Homo sapiens: one gene and its partners. The protein of the gene in region 2 purifies or fractionates together with the protein of the main gene of each other region. This does not show direct contact. Each region holds a gene or a part of one and is shown on either strand. Other genes may lie near its edges. The genes, in order: CEMIP2, DNAJC25-GNG10, SUSD1 and TXNDC15.

Region 1 (4,246 bases), about 40 Mb from region 2:
AACAGGGCACAAGGTCAGCTTTGAGCATCTCTTATGAGAAAAGGGTTCTGCTAGACACTGGAGACCCAATAGTACAAAAAATAAACATGGTTCCTACATTCAAGAAGCTCACAGCCCAGCATTTGGGGGTAGAAAGAGTAGGGAGACAACACAAGTAAACAAGTAATTAAACTGAATGTTGAGGCAAAGAAGGTGGGCTGAGGAGGTGATTGCTTGAGTTTATTAAATCCCTATGAATGGAATAGAGCTTAATTTTCTAAAAGCCCTGGCAAATTTACTCACCCAAATGTGCACCACCAGACGATTACTAATATCTTTCTTATTTTGCATGTGTAAACTAAAGTCTACCACTGAACTCCGCCATTTAAATGACGACACGTTGCCCAATAGTGACTAAAAAGTATGGGAGGGAGGGGAGGGTGACACACTACAGAAGTCTTTCATATTCTTTGAAAGGGTGTCACCTGCAGGTGAGTTCCAGGCCAGAATATAAAACAGTCATAGTCCCTCTCCTCCTAGGCCACGTGAAACCTAAGCCAAACAAAAGGGCCATCTTACACATTCTCAACAGTTTCCTCTATGTTCCTCAAGACTCAAGGGTGCTACAGAGTCAAAAGGCAGAACTTCTAATGAACAAGTAATTACTCAGCACTAGAGTGGCAGCTGGACTTCACTTAGCCGAATAGGGATACACTGTGGCTAGGAAGAGGTGAACAATGATGTGCACCTGTAGTCCCATCCACTTAGAGGCCGAGGCAGTTGGATGGCTTGAGCCCAGGAGTTCAAGACTATAGTGTGCTAGGACTACTATAGAGCCACTGCACTCCAGCCTGGGTAACCTAACAAGACCCCATGCCAGCCCCGTCACCAAAAAAAAAAAAAAAAAAAAAAACTGGCTAGCAGCAGCATAACAGGCAAACAGGGGCTACGTGACAAGCCCAAGTGCTGCAAGCACTAACAGGAGGCAAGAAAAAACACTTGAAGATTAAAGCCAACCTCAGACTCAGCCAAGCCCTGCTCAAGCATATTTTTCAAATCCTCATATAAAGTTGATTTTATAGTGGTGGCACTGGTGGCATTAAAAAGCAATGTTAGTATGGGTGCAGTGGCTCACGCCTGTAATCCCACCACTTTAGGAGACTGAGGTGGGAGGATCACTTGAGGCCAGGAGTTCAAGACCACCCTGGGCAACATGGTGAAACCCTATCTCTACAAAAAAATATAAAGATTAGCTGGGCATGGTGGTGCATGCCTGTACTCCCAGCTACTCAGAAGGCTGAGATGTGGAAAGATAGCTTGAGCCCAGGAGGTGGAGGCTGCAGTGAGCTGTGATCATACCAATGCACTCCATCCTGGGTGACAGAGTGAGACTCCTGTCTCAAAAAAATATATTTTTTTAATGTTATGTTTTTTCAAACCACAACTTAAAAAAAAAAAAAAGAAAACCTCAAGAACTCATTTTTCTAATTCCTCCTGAAACAGGAATCAGGCATATGTCCCTGTGTTAAGCTAAATCTTTCCCATTCCTAAAATGTTAATAATTAACTTTCCAAACTTCATTGTATGTGAAAAAATGATTCATTCTTCAGGGAAGTGAATCACCATTACAGAGACCATTAAGACAACAGAAGGCTTGCTGTCTCCAAAGTGCACACCAATAATTAAGTAAGAGCCCCCAAATCGATAACAATTTCACACTGGAGGGGGACTTAATCTGACCTGACCACGATATCAAATTTATAGTGGATATTCATATGTTTTAAGATACTTACATGAAACTCAGTCAGAGGTCAATTCTTTTCTCATGGGCTCAATGTGGATTGTCTTAAATTTCAACTCTTTCAGGCAACAACATCCTAATGACACTTCTAACCAGTGGTAAAGCCTTATTAAAAAATATGAGGATTAAGAATGCCACAATCTCTACCAGGCAAACTTTTCACATAAAATTCTTATCAAATATTGAACTTTTACTTATTGTTCAAACTACAATGGACCCTTGATACAACAAATGTAAAAAGGTTTATCACTTTTCACCGTGTAAAGAAAATAAATGTCTTGTTACAAATCTGGTTACTAGGTTACCCTAATATTAACAATTTCAAAGCAGATTTGCCTTATAGATCAAAGGACTGATTTGTTGGGAGATAGCAATTCTGTGTTTTAAGACATACAGTTTATGAGTCTTTCACTTTTTTTAAAGACATTTTAATAAAAACCCTATGCTTAATTTATCTCTGTATTGCTCACAGCAACCAGTACAGTGCCTTGCACATCCTAGGAATGCAATAAAATAGTTGCTGAACATAGTTCCTGACAACCAATATTAAAGGCTTCCCAAAGCAAGTACCAGGAAAACAAAAGAACAAGCAAACATGACCTACAGCCATAAGTTTTGAAGAAGAAAAAAAAGAACATGCAAACATATTCTAGTATGCTTTTATTCTATGATTCACAAGCCAAATCTGAACAGGGTTTCCAGGAACTTGCTTCTTCTAAAAAATGTGCACATCTACAGTACTTTAAATTTCCATCCTGTTTATAGAAAATACAAGTAAAGCTAATGCTATTTTTACACTTAGTTCCTTATTTCCCAGAAATTTGTTACAAGTAACATCACCCCACCATCATGTGTAAGTAGTAGGCAATGAAAAAATATACATAGTGTCTGCCTTAAACCTGAAAGCAGTGACTTTCAAAGCCCAAATACAAATTATCTGATCATTAAACTAATTAAATTGCTAACAAAGCCAAACAGGAATAAAATAAGAATATATCTGAGAAAGAAAAAAAAAAAAGTGCTGACTGGAAACAGGGACAAAGGAGTTCTTGTCCCTGCTTGGCTATTAATTTACTATATGACCTTACCTAATTATTTAGCCTCTCTGGGTCCCAACTTCCTTGTTTTAATATTATCTTTGAGGTCCCTTCAAGCGACATGCTAAGATTCAGCATATGTAGCAGTGTCTAGAAAACTGATTTACATTCATTACCCCCCTCCCCACCGCACCCCTGGCAAAAGGGCACAGTTCACTTGATAGTTTTAAATATCTGAGTTTGGATTTCTATCAAAGGCAATTTATTAAAATGTCAGATGGGCTTAAGTCCATTTCAAGTGGAGAACTAAAGCGAGTATTGCTAACAGATTCGCCTAGACAGCAGCTGCTGCTATTGAGAGAATAGACTTTAACAATCTAGATGAAAATTATACCTCTTTACAAATGGAGAAAACTAGTAATGGGGATTTTCATACTCTCAAAAAGGCAGATGCATAGCTTTTCTTCCTTTTTTTTTTTTTCCTTTTCCATATTCATCATATTGAGAGAGAGGAAAACAGAAGGGCTAGCTTGGCTTGGGAGGCAGAGGGGAGAATGGATGTTACCGTACAAAACCAGACAAGACCTTTTCAATTGATGTACTGTACTAGACAGCCCATTCTTCTCACTAATGCTCACAATCCAAGAGAAATGAAAAGATTTCCTGTGGCTGGGATGGGAAGAAGCCTGGACAAGAGAGCAATACCATATGACAGTAACTAGCTTAAAAGTCTAAAGACTTGCTCTCAAGATGGGATTCAGATCATTCTGGAAAGGGCCAATAAAATGAAAATCTGTAGCTGAGACCTGATTAAGCTATGATTTATATCTATTTATAGCTTTAAAAAACTTTTGAAAGTACCTTTTGATACCAGACAGCATTAGCCTGTACAGTACTTTATCATATATTAATACATAGCAAACTTACTCAAATTGAATCCCCAAAACATTCCCATAAAGCATTTTAAAACTCCTTTTTCAGGTGAAGAAACAACGTGAGAAGGATTAGGGGATTTGCCCACAGCAAATGTTTAGCAAGTGCCAAGCCTTGTTTTAAATCCAAGTCTGACTTCAAGTCCTCCAATCTTCACCATTTTAAGATAGTACTTCTGACACTAGTTTTCAGTCCCTACTATTTTGTCTGATTTAACAAATTTTATTTCTCACAAAATTGCTCCCCCACCCCCAACTGTTCCTTCTCTGGCTTCTTAGAGCGTTCTGTGCGTAATTCTCCCAGACATGCACTTATTGGACCTTCTAATTGTTCATTTCCTTATGTCCGGGGCTAGGCTCATTTCTTCAATAGCAGAGATTGTCATCTCTCTAGTTGCAAGTGACACAGGTATCTTCAATCCCTGTGGCCTCCCGGGTTGCAACCACTTCAACTCCTTCTCTTTACCAACATGAATGCTCCACAAAGCAGGTGTTGC
Region 2 (4,962 bases):
AACGGATAATGTGCAAGGCTGAAGCCCTCCAAATTGGATGACCTCAGTTCATTAAAACCTTGCATTACCCAGAAAACATATTCTTTGGCAACTTCCTCACAATTCTCCGTTATGACAGAAGTTAAAGCAGACCACCCTGTAATAATTGCTCCCACAGACAGCAAGTCAAAGTCCTTATCCTTATTCCAAGAGAGAGCATCTTCAATGAGGTAAATAGTTCTTGGAGGTGCTCCACTTGGAAGATGAATATATGTTCATCTCCATAAATTTAAAATGCAAGTTTTCAAAGAGTTCTGCTGGGTCTGATTTTCCAGGGTCCAAAATATCTCCAGACATCCCTTTTGTCTCACAGATAATTTCCACAGTAAGACAGTGGGCGTTCTGGGGGAGCTACAGAACACTCCCCTCATTCCCTCCTCCACCAGTACAACTCCACTTCCACTCCCCTGTTCCAAGATATTTGTAGCTATCACAAACCCGTCAGAGTCAAGAGTACAAGTGTTACCTACTCCAGACATACTGGTCTTTAACTGCCTAAACGTTCCTTGATCTTGAGTGGATCACTTATTTTATCTAGCTTTTCATTAGCTGACAATGAGTGGTAAACTTTAGGGGTAGAAACCTTTAGAGGCAACCATATAGATTCATCAGATCAGTTCCGGGATGGGGGCACTGATCAGTCTCTCCTGGTGGCCCTCCCAGCAGGAATCTCTACCATCACTATTTCTACCCTCTAATCATGGCACTTGTTTTCAAAGTTCTTACCAACATGCTCACCATTCTCATGCCAAAACTACTCATCTCCACTCCTACAAAGCCCAGCAGAAGGCAACAGCTGGCAGTGTTTCTGCTGCCCTCTCTTCTGGAAGTTCTCCATCTTCCAGAAGATGGGTTGACACAGAGGGTAAGCGTCCACTTGTTTAACTTCCAAAGTCCATAAACTCCCTAAATCCCCAAAAGTCAAACACACTAAATACTATTGCATGGTCTTAGTTTATAAAGCAGTGTGTGAAATCATAATGGGATAACTGATATACAATCCAAATATCACTATCTTTAACCTAATTATCTATATCATCCTAACAACTACTGCATTCCTGACACTCAACCTAAATTCAAGCACCACAACCTTATTACCATCTCGCGCCTGAAACAAATTAACATGATTAACATCCCTAATCCTATCAATTTTACTATCCCTAGTAAATCCCATTATGATTTCACACACTGGTCCAGGGCTCCCTCACGCACCAGCAGGGCTTCTGGCTGACTACAAGGAACAGAGGTTGGAGCTTCATATGCTGAAGTGCCTTGGATGGAGAGTTCTTTCCTATTTTTTCTGGAGTCTTTTTTCCATCACTTTTTACATAATCGGCAACAAAGCCCTTTGGGGCCTCAGCACTTTCCCAGTTCCCCAGCCATCCCTCAGTTAACTGCCAATAAAAATTACAATCTCACTAACGCTAGTGAGAATTTAATGAACTAGGTAAATTAAATTTTACCTAGTTCAATTCACCTAGTTTACCTAGTTCAGGGCCCGCCCCTCCACCACTCATTTTATGACTCCAAATTATCCAAACTGCTCTGGAAGGCATCAATAAAGTTGTTAGCTCCTTGACTATTTTCAGCTCTGGAAAAACAATCTGGAGGAACAATCCAAGGTAAAATTATATCCACTCAAAGTACAATCATTAAAAGCAGGCTACCTGGCAACATAGAAAATTTTGCCTCGGGAAAAAAAAAAAAAGGCTAGAAAAGAAATACTTTACAACTACAATCGCTGACGCATTAGTATGATGGGGCCCTTCAAGCAGTAATACCACCATCAAGTACGATTTATACTTCGTGATGTCCTAGATGGTTTGATTTTTTGCAGTAGTAGAAGAAAACAGCATCGGGCTAAATCTCTCATCCCCACAAGACTCAATAAAACCTGTCAAATGAAATACAAATACATATTCACAAAATATTTCCTACTAGAAATTCTCAGAGTTTTGTACCCAAGTCATTAAGCACCTATTTATGGATCCTATGGAAAGGGGGGCGGTTCGCACACTTATCATTTAATCCCCATAATAACTCTGAGAGGAGGTATCATGGCCTTAATTTTGCATATGAAGAAACAGCTATTTCAACATAATAAGTCACTATCCAAGGTCATACAGGGGTGTCACAGCAAAGACTCACATCCAGCCTTTTGACTGGTGTTCATTGTTCTTCTCAGTGTTTTCTTAGTTCCTTAAACCCAAACTAAGCGTCACCATTAACACTATTTCCAGAAACCAATTTTCTGTCATATCAAACTGATGCGATCACAGTTGTCACTTGATATTCGAGACTTTCCCTGTTGTGGGCTACCCCAGATCCTACTAATAATGATCACCCTGCTTTTCGAATGTGAAATGCACGTTATTAAAATATTTTCACGAAATCGTAAGATGGCCAAAGTTTTGCATAACAATGTCACAAAAAGGAAGAGGGCAAGGAGGCTAGCTGTGCCCCCCAAGGCCCCGTGGGGCCGACTCGGCTCTTTCACAGGGCCACGTGGGAAACGTGAGTATCTTAAAGGTCGCGGTGGTGGCTGTGCTCAGTTTCGGGGTCACAGAGGCCCACGCTCCGCGGACCGGGGTCGGAAGGCGCCGTGGGCTTCCCGCGGCCAGTCTTCGAAGCCCCTCCACGCCCGCAGGCCTCACCTTGAGTGTCTCGTAGGCGGTTGCCACCAGCAGGAAAGCCTCCTCGGCGCTCTGCGGCGTCCGCCCGGGGCCCTCGTCTCCGGGCTGGGGCCGGTAGCGGTCAGGGTGGTAGCGCCGGGCCAGCTGGCGGTAGGCCCGCGCGATCTCCGCCTTGCCCGCCGAGCGGCTCACGCCCAGCACCTCGTAGCAGTCCCGCGTGCCGCAGTAGAGCCCCTCCACCAGGGCCCCCGCGGGCCGCACCAGCAGCAGCGCCGGCAGCAGGGGCGCCAGCAGCATCCACCAGCGCCGGCCGGCAGCCCCGGCTCCCCAGCCGGGAGAGAGCAGCGGCGCCCCCATCCCCAGCCTCGCTGGCGGCTCTGCCACCCCAGCGATTCTGCAGCACTCAGCCGCGCGCCCGGCTAGTCCCGTCTGGCCCCAGCTACACGTCAGCAGCCGACGCCTCCGCGCAGGCGCACAGGGCGCGGCTACAGCAACTACTTCCTTCGCAACCCGTTGGTAGGGAGAAGGACGCCTCAGCCACTAGGCTGCTTCCGGTGTGTCACTGAACACCTTCCCCGTACCAGCAGCTGGAGGATTTGTTTGGTAGCACCTGGGGGATGGCTCTGTCCCGGGCGCACTTAGGCGGGCTGTGCGGAGCGCTTTACCTTCCACAGTGTCCGGCACACGCATCCTTTTCGACATCATCACTTGACCTGCTGCAATAGGTAACCTACCTGGCTCTCTCGCATCCCGTTATCAGCGTCAAGAAGATTTGCACGTAGGCCTTTAAAGCCAGCCACCAGCCCCGGGCGCCTTCCTCTCACTAACCCCATGCTGCCTTTCCAAACGGAAGATGAACTTAGCAATTCTAGGCGCTGCCTGTGTACTAGGTAGGGACCCTGAAAGTTCATAGCCATCTAGTTCAGTTTTTCTCAGCCTCCACGCTATTGACATTTTAGACCAGATAATTCTTTGCCTTTGAGGGGCTGCCCTTTGCATTGTAAGATGTTTAGCAGCATATCTGGCCTCTCCACACTAAATGCCAGTAGTGCCACCACCCCCAGTCATGACAATAAAAAATCTCTGTACGCGGGTCTGTGCGTCCACCTTGGGCTGCGCGTTCCCGGGACAACCTGCTGGAAGGATCAAGCGATCCTTCCAAAATGCTAGGATTACAGGCGTGAGCCACCGTGCCCGGCCTACATTTGAATTTCAGATAATAATTTTTTAGTATAAGTATGTCCAAAATATTGCATGGGACTATATGGCAACATGAAAAACTTTGCCTCAAAAAATCTGTTTCTATCATTCATCTGGTAAATGTTTATTGAGTCTCTACTCTGAGCCGGGCACTGTTACTTAGGCACTGGGGATACAGTGGTGAGCAAAGTAAACAAGAAGCTCAACTTCAGAGAGCATATATTCTGATGGAGGATGACAGTCAGTAACAAATAAATAAACGTTCAGATATAATCAACTCTTTTAATAAAGTGAAATCAAATACTGATACATAGCATTATATACTTATAATACATAATGAATATACATTATAATTTTGTATTTCTCATTGAATAAATATATATCTCTCATTACATATATCTCCCTCATTACATATATAATATATATAATCTCATTACACATATATGTCTCTGTCATTACATATATAACATATATGTGTCTATTTTTCACCTCAGCCCACTAAATATTGCATGGGACTATATAGCAACATATACAGTTATATATGTAATGAGAGAGATACATGTATATGTAATGAGATACAAAAGTTATATATATAATAACAATTTTGTGTATCATATATGCTTATTTACATTTGTATCTCATATATGTTTATATATGCTTATATATGGCTTATATATATGCTTATATATATATATAATGAGAAAGATAAAATGAATGGAAACACATGGGAGGGTCTCCTGAAATTATTAGGATCGGGATCAATTACAAGCATCAATTCCAGTAGGAGCTGACAGCTAAACTGACTTTGGAGGACGAATAGAGAATGGCTTGAAGGATGTGAATTAGAGAGGAGTTTGGGGACAAGGGAGTGTGAAATAAGTACCAAGAAGAGAAACGAGCCATGGGCAAGAAAAAAATAATAATAAAGCTTTTCAAAAAATGAAAGACAACCTATATGACTAGGAGTAGAGGTAAGGAGTGTAGGAGATGAAACTGGAGAAAGCCAAGTTGCAAAGGGTCATTTTATCCCATGTCAAAGAAGTTGTTCCTTATCTTAAGAGCAATGGAAAGGCCAATATGGGGTCTTTGA
Region 3 (3,753 bases), 410 kb from region 2:
TAACTTTGAAACAAAGACGATAATAGCCCTTTCCCCAAACAAATCCCCATCCTGTCTGGGGACTAGACTGCCTTTGCAAGACTAACAAATTAGCCATGAGATTAGAAATTATGGTTTAGGGGTCCTACAGCTGGAAGCTGCAAGATTCTGAACTGCTCAAATTGCTCCTAGGGCTAACATCACTATTGTAAAACCTAAGATCAGTGCTTGAGATATTTTCCAGACCCTGCACTCCATGGATCGGCTGGCATCACCCAGATCCATAAACTGGTTCATCTGATCTTGTGGCCCCCAACCAGAAATTGACTCAGTGCAAGAGGACAGCTTCGACTCTGTGATTTCATCTCCAACCCAACCAATCAGCACTTCTGACTCACTGACCCCCCCATCCCCTACCCCCTACCCACTAAGTAATCCTTAAAAACCCCATCCCTGAATTTTCAGGGAGACTGATTTGAGTAATAATAAAACTCCAGTCTCCCATACAGTTGGCTCTGTGTGAATTAAGCTCTTTATTGCAATTCCTCTGTCTTGATAAATCAGCTCTGTCTAGGCAGCAGGCAAGGAAAACTCATTGGGCGGTTACTAATTCTCAAAAAATGCTGCCAAGAGCCTTTCTAGAAAACATGGCTTATATTATTTGGTTGCTTTTAGTCTATAGAAGAAAAATGGCCTTGACACTTTAAGAAGCTAGATTACTTATTTTGTTTTATTTTATTTTTATTTATTATTATTTTTTGAGACAGAGTCTTGCTCTGTCACCCAGGCTGGAGTGCAGTGGCATGATCTCGGCTCACTGCAACCTCCACCTCCCGGATTCAAGCGATTCTCCTGCCCCAGTCTCCCTAGTAGCTGGGACTACAGGTGTACTCCACCACGCCCGGCTAGTTTTTGTATTTTAGTAGAGACAGGGCTTCACCATGTTGGCCAGGCTGGTCTCGAACTCTTGACCTCAGGCGATCTGCCCATCTTGGCCTCCCAAAGTGCTAGAATTATAGGCATGAGCCACCATGCCCAGCCAAGAAACTAGATTATAAAATGGAAGGAGAAACAGTGATTAAGTGAAGAATTAGTAAAGAAAAAATATTAGGAGAGTGACTTGAATTGCAAGACAGTAAAACAGTGCAGTATTAGAATAGGAATGAATACATTGGAACAAAATAGCCTAGAAACAAATCCAAGCATATCAAATACTTTCAAAGTTTGAATACTGGAGTCAGATGTCCAAGTCTTTATCTGAACACCACCACTGCCTGTGTGACTTTGTGCAAGTTATTCATCCATTCTGTGTCTCAGTCCCCACACTGAGGGATGCTGTAATAACATGGGAATGATAGCAATACTACCCACCTCTAGGTAGTGGGAGAAGTCAGTGAGTTAGTACAGGTTGAAACAGTGCCTGGCACAGAATAAGCAATAAGCAAATGTTAGCTATTGTTAATTATTATTGTTTTTGTTGTTTTGATACTGTTTCAGATCATTGGGGAAATGATAAATTTTTCATAACCAGTGCTGAGAAAATTGGCTAACCATTTAGAATCAAATAATTTTGATCACTAGAGCTTACACCATATATCAAAATAAAATCCAGATGGATTACAGACTTAAATTGAAACCTAAAAGGATTAGGAAATGTTAGTGAATATTTACCTAATATTAAAGGGGGTAAGAAATTTCTAAGCATATTCGTTAACACAGAAACCTTAAGAGAATGAGAGATTTAACCACTTTAAAAAGCATGCACTTCTTATACCAAAAACTACCATAAGCAAGATTAAAAGGCAAATGGCAAGCTGGATAAAATATCTAGAATAATGGGCAAGAAGTTAACATACAGAGAGTGTTACAGATTAATAAAGACATACCTCAATAGCGAAATGAGAAAATTCTACGAAAAGGTAAATCACATGAAAAACATGATTACAGATGATCAATAAAACTTTGAGCAAATGCTCTCTTACAAGTAATAAAAATGCAAATTAAGGCATTAAGATGCCATCTTTGTGCATGACTCAGAAACATTTTTTTAAATGCCATCTTGGTGGACTAATTAACTAGATTTGTTTTGTTTTGTTTTGTTTTTAAGAGAAAATACAATTCTGGAGATGAACGGGGGAGCTGGTACTTTACTGCACTGGCATTTCATCCGATCTACCCAGTATTCCTTCCAACTTCTGACATCAAGTTTTTTTCTGTGTATTTTTTCCTCTACACTTTAACCCTCTGTATATTTTAATCACTGATTGATGAATATGTTGAACTGAAGATGACTGTGGACAGAAATCCATATCATGCATATTCTTGGGTTTGATTTCAACTCATCAATAATTGTTAATGAGTTGATATCAACTGTGCATAGCCATTCAGCTTGTTTCTAAGCCCACATACAGCTCTCATGTCCCCACATTGTCCACAAGGACATTATTGTTATTATGCGTGCCATATTTCCCTGACCAATTACTGACTCTGTGCAAGAAGAAATGGAAAGCAATCTGACCTAATCTGCTCTTAAAGCTCCTGACTCCCGGGAACTGCTGTTTTTTCTACCAGGGATACACAAGCCATCACTTGAAGACCTTGCTTTGCCTTGACTTCAAGTTACCATCATCTACACTTCTGGTGGTTCTTCCTTTGTACAAAGTTCCTTGTTCTTTGCTCATCTCTAGTCCTCTTACATCTCTCCATTTTCTTCAAGGTTTATTGAAGATCATTTGCAATGGTTTATCCATCTCATGTGAAAATTGTATGAACCTGCCAGAATACGCTACATCCATGTTGGAAGACTTGAACCTATGTAGGGTAGCAAGCTCTTTTCTTTCTTCTAACTATCCCCTCACAAACGAAGAGGACAAAAGCTAAGTAGGAGTTAAGGAAGCTGACTTTCACTTGACCATCCACCAGCAGGATCTACCTGGGCACAACTATTCCTTACTCTAGACATAGTATTGGAAAATGATCTTTATTTATTCTGCATAGCACAATTTGGGTTTGGCTCCAGGAATGATTCTTGCTGGTAGATCAGTTCCTGGTTATATGTCTTTTTGTCTACTTTGCATATATACTCTAAAAATCTGAGTCAATCTAATCAAGAGTGCTCACAAGTGTTGCCACACAAGCTTCTTTAGAGACTTTCCTCATTAATTCCTTAATAAGAAAATTTACAACTGGCAAATTTGAATTGTATTTTTTATAGCCTCACCATCCTTTGGTTACCCTACCTTTCCATGGTCTCATGCCAGAGAACCATGTTTATTTTTCTTCTGAATCACTTGTAGAATATTTTTTTACAAACCCAAGTGAATCACTCATGTGTTATATCCCACATCAGTTACTCAATCTTGGAGAAAGTAAGTCCATTAAGACTAAACTTCACCATTCTCTTTATGGTGGCTCCCTCAAGAGAGCTAGTGCTCAGGAGGAGTGATGGGGCCTTGCTGGACTTATCTTTAACCCCTTCCCTGATAGAAATATCACATGCTGAAGAGGAAGTTAGAAAGGCCCTATTTCTACTCTCAGACTTTGTGACAGCTTGAGGACGCTCCATGGGTGTGGACATTTTTTCATGAATATACACGGGCATGGTCACTTCCTGAAAGCACCAATTCTGTTCTCCAAATGGTAAATAATAATAAAAATAATAATTAGCACAGTGACTTCTATTTACTGTGTTAAATTTCTCTTTGCTATTCTAGGGTCTTCTCACTTGAATTCCATTCAGAGCCAAAGATGGCAAAGGAAATCAAAGTGGAAAAC
Region 4 (4,246 bases), on a different chromosome or scaffold from region 2:
TGAGACCCTGTCTCAAAAAAATAACTAAATAAAAATAAAAACAATCAAATTGGCCGGGCTCGGTGGCTCACACCTGTAATCTCAGCACTTTGGGAGGCTGAGGCGGGTAGATCACCTGAGGTCGGGAGTTCGAGACCAGCCTGACCAACATGGAGAAACCCCATCTCTACTAAAAATACAAAATTAGCCTGGCGTGGTGGCGCATGCTTGTAATCCCAGCTTTTTGGGAGGCTGAGGCAGGAGAATCGCTTGAACTTAGGAGGCAGAGGTTGTGGTGAGCCGAGATAGTGCCATTGCACTCCAGCCTGGGCAACAAGAGCAAAACTCTGTCTCGGGAAAAAAAAAAAGATCAAATTGTACCCTTTTTTTTTTTTTTTTTGAAACTGAGTCTTGCTCTATCGTCCAGGTTGGAGTGCAGTGGCACAATCTCAGCTCACTGCAGCCTCCACCTCCCGGGTTCAAGCAATTCTCCTGCCTCAGCCTCCCAAGTAGCTGGGATTATAGGTGCCTGCCACCACACCTGACTAATTTTTGTATTTTTTAGTAGAGATGAGGTTTCGCCATGTTGGCCAGGCTGGTCTCGAACTCCTGACCTCGGGTGATCCTCCCGCCTCGGCATCCCAAAATGCTGGGATTGCAGGCATGAGCCACCGCGCCTGGCTTTCTTTCCTTTTTTTTTTTTTTTGAGATGGAGTCTCCCTTTATTGCCCAGGCTGAGTGCAGTGGCACCATCTCGGCTCACTGCAACCTCCACCTCCCAGGTTCAAGCAATTCTCCTGCCTCAGCTTCCTGAGTAGCTGGGATTACAGGCACCCACCACCACACCCAGCTAATTTTTGTATTTTTTTAGTAGAGATGGGGTTTCGCCATATTGGTCAGGCTGGTCTCAAACTCCTGGCCCCAAGTGATCTGCCTGCCTCAGCCTCCCAAAGTGCTGGGATTACAGGTGTGAGCCAGCGAGCCACCAGGCCTAGCCTTTTTCTTTTCTTTTTTTTTTTTTTTTTTTTTTTTGAGACAGGGTCTCGCTCTGTCACCCAGGCTGGAGTACAGTGGCACAACCACCTCCCGGGTTCAAGCGATTCTACCACCTCAGCCTCCCAAGCAGCTAGGATTACAGGCATGAGCCACTGCACCCAGCTAATTATTTTGTCTTTGTTTTTTTGGTTTTTTTTGAGACAGAGTCTTGCTCTGTAGCACAGGCTGGAGTGCAGTGGCACGATCTCACTCACTGCTACCTCCTCCTGGGTTCCGGTTCAAGGAATTCTCCTGCCTCAGCCTCCTGAATAGCTGGGATTACAGGCATGTGCCACCATGCCCAGCTAATTTTTGTATTTTTAGTAGAGACGGGGTTTCATCATGTTGGCCAGGCTGGTCTGGAACTCCTGACCTCGTGATCCACCCACCTTGGCCTCCCAAAGTGCTGGGATTACAGGCGTGAGCCACCATGCCCAGCCTAATTATTTTGTATTTTTGCTAGAGATGGGGTTTTGCCATGTTGGCCAGGCTGGTCTCAAACTCCTGGCCTCAAGTAATCTGCCCGCCTCAGCCTCCCAAATTCTGGGATTACAGGCATGAGCCACCGTGCCCAGCCCAAATCGTACTTTTAAAGACGTAAATTATAATAACTACAATGTCTGAGATGAAAATTGCACTCTATAAGAATAATGGTAAAGTAGACAATACGGAAGAAAATAGTCAACTTGAAGATAGCAATAGAACCTGTCCAGCTCTCCCTCTCCCTCTCCCCCTCCCCCTCTCCCTCCTCTTTCCACGGTCTCCCTCTGATGCCGAGCCGAAGCTGGACTGTACTGCTGCCATCTCGGCTCACTGCAACCTCCCTGCCTGATTCTCCTGCCTCAGCCTGCCGAGTGCCTGCGATTGCAGGCGCGCGCCGCCACGCCTGACTGGTTTTCGTATTTTTTGGGTGGAGACGGGGTTTCGCTGTGTTGGCCGGGCTGGTCTCCAGCTCCTAACCGCGAGTGATCCGCCAGCCTCGGCCTCCCGAGGTGCCGGGATTGCAGGAGTCTCCTTCACTCAGTGCTCAATGGTGCCCAGGCTGGAGTGCAGTGGCGTGATCTCGGCTCGCTACAACATCCACCTCCCAGCAGCCTGCCTTGGCCTCCCAAAGTGCCGAGATTGCAGCCTCTGCCCGGCCGCCACCCTGTCTGGGAAGTGAGGAGCGTCTCTGCCTGGCCGCCCATTGTCTGGGATGTGAGGAGCCCCTCTGCCTGGCTGCCCAGTCTGGAAAGTGAGGAGCATCTCTGCCCGGCCGCCATCCCATCTAGGAAATGAGGAGCGCCTCTTCCCGGCCGCCATCCCATCTAGGAAGTGAGGAGCGTCTCTGCCCGGCCACCCATCGTCTGAGATGTGGGGAGCGCCTCTGCCCTGTCGCCCCGTCCGGGATGTGAGGAGCGTCTCTGCCCGGCCACCCCGTCTGAGAAGTGAGGAGCGTCTCTGCCCGGCCACCCCGTCTGAGAAGTGAGGAGACCCTCTGCCTGGCAACCGCCCTGTCTGAGAAGTGAGGAGCCCCTCCGCCCAGCAGCCACCCCGTCTGAGAAGTGAGGAGCCCCTCCGCCCGGCAGCCACCCCGTCTGGGAAGTGAGGAGCGTCTCCACCCGGCAGCCACCCCGTCCGGGAGGGAGGTGGGGGGGTCAGCCCCCCACCTGGCCAGCCGCCCCGTCCGGGAGGTCAGGGGCGCCTCTGCCCGGCCGCCCCTACTGGGAAGTGAGGAGCCCCTCTGCCTGGCCAGCCGCCCCGTCCGGGAGGGAGATGGGAGCGTCAGCCCCCCGCCCGGCCAGCCGCCCCGTCCGGGAGGTGAGGGGCGCCTCTGCCCGGCCGCCCCTACTGGGAAGTGAGGAGCCCCTCTGCCCGGCCACCACCCCGTCTGGGAGGTGTACCCAACAGCTCATTGAGAACGGGCCATGATGACAATGGCAGTTTTGTGGAATAGAAAGGGGGGAAAGGTGGGGAAAAGATTGAGAAATCGGATGGTTGCCGTGTCTGTGTAGAAAGAGGTAGACATGGGAGACTTTTCATTTTGTTCTGTACTAAGAAAAATTCTTCTGCCTTGGGATCCTGTTGATCTGTGACCTTACCCCCAACCCTGTGCTCTCTGAAACATGTGCTGTGTCCACTCAGGGTTAAATGGATTAAGGGCGGTGCAAGATGTGCTTTGTTAAACAGACGCTTGAAGGCAGCATGCTCGTTAAGAGTCATCACCACTCCCTAATCTCAAGTACCCAGGGACACAAACACTGCGGAAGGCCGCAGGGTCCTCTGCCTAGGAAAACCAGAGACCTTTGTTCACTTGTTTATCTGCTGACCTTCCCTCCACTATTGTCCTGTGACCCTGCCAAATCCCCCTCTGCGAGAAACACCCAAGAATGATCAATAAAAAAATAAATAAATAAATAAATAAATAAATAAAAAGAACCTATCCAAAATGAAACACACAGGAAAAAAAAAAAGAATGGAAAGAAATTAAGAGCATCAGTGGGCCGTAGGACAATTTCAAGTGGTCTAATGTACAGTAACTGGAGTACTGGCAAGAGAAGAGAGTGGAGGAACAGAAAAATATTTGAAGAAATTATAGCCAAAAACTTTCCAAACTTGGTGAAAACTATAAATCCATAGATCTAAGAAGCTCAACAAAACCCAAACTCAATGAACTACAACAAAGCACATCACAATCAAATTGCTCAAAACCAGTGACAAAGAAAAAAATCTTTAAAGCAGCCAGAGGAAAAAAAACAAAACATCATGTAGAGAGGAACAAAGGATAACAACAGGTTTCTCACTGGAAACAAAGCAAGCAAGAGTGCGACTCCATCTCAAAAAAAAAGAAAAAAATGATTTTGGCTGGGCATGGTGGCTCACGCCTGTACTCCCAGCACTTAGGGAGACCGAGGCAGGTGGATGACTTGAGGTCAGGAGTTCCAGAACAGCCTAGCCAACATGGTGAAACCCTGTATCTACTAAAAATACAAAAAAAAAAATTAGCCTGGCATGGTAGCGGGCGCCCGTAATCCCAGCTGCTCGGGAGGCCGAGGCAAGAGAATCGCTTGAACCCAGGAGGTGGAGGTTGCAGTGACCTGAGATAGTGCCACTGCACTCCAGCCTGGGCTACAGAGCGAGACTCCATCTCAAAAAAAAAAAAAATAATAAGTGAAATAAATACTTCTTCACTTCTTCAGACATACAAAAGATAAAAGAATTCATTACCAGCGAACCCACATGACAAAAATCT

The links.
Region 1: the proteins of DNAJC25-GNG10 (region 2) and CEMIP2 purify together in Homo sapiens (affinity purification with mass spectrometry, with the first as the bait; one large-scale study listed by BioGRID). This does not show direct contact.
Region 3: the proteins of DNAJC25-GNG10 (region 2) and SUSD1 purify together in Homo sapiens (affinity purification with mass spectrometry, with the first as the bait; one large-scale study listed by BioGRID). This does not show direct contact.
Region 4: the proteins of DNAJC25-GNG10 (region 2) and TXNDC15 purify together in Homo sapiens (affinity purification with mass spectrometry, with the first as the bait; one large-scale study listed by BioGRID). This does not show direct contact.

The regions. Positions count from the first base shown.
Region 1 is NC_000009.12:71,761,635-71,765,880, forward strand, and holds part of CEMIP2 (cell surface hyaluronidase CEMIP2), read right to left. Parts: intron 1-4,246. UniProt on the Homo sapiens protein: Cell surface hyaluronidase that mediates the initial cleavage of extracellular high-molecular-weight hyaluronan into intermediate-size hyaluronan of approximately 10-5 kDa fragments.
Region 2 is NC_000009.12:111,629,475-111,634,436, reverse strand, and holds the start of DNAJC25-GNG10 (DNAJC25-GNG10 protein precursor), read right to left. Parts: upstream 3,104-4,962; 5' UTR 3,030-3,103; coding exon 2,694-3,029; intron 1-2,693. Other genes in the region: DNAJC25 (dnaJ homolog subfamily C member 25 precursor), read right to left, coding at 2,694-3,029.
Region 3 is NC_000009.12:112,043,080-112,046,832, forward strand, and holds part of SUSD1 (sushi domain-containing protein 1 isoform 2 precursor), read right to left. Parts: intron 1-3,753.
Region 4 is NC_000005.10:134,880,353-134,884,598, reverse strand, and holds part of TXNDC15 (thioredoxin domain-containing protein 15 isoform 1 precursor), read right to left. Parts: intron 1-4,246. UniProt on the Homo sapiens protein: Acts as a positive regulator of ciliary hedgehog signaling. Involved in ciliogenesis.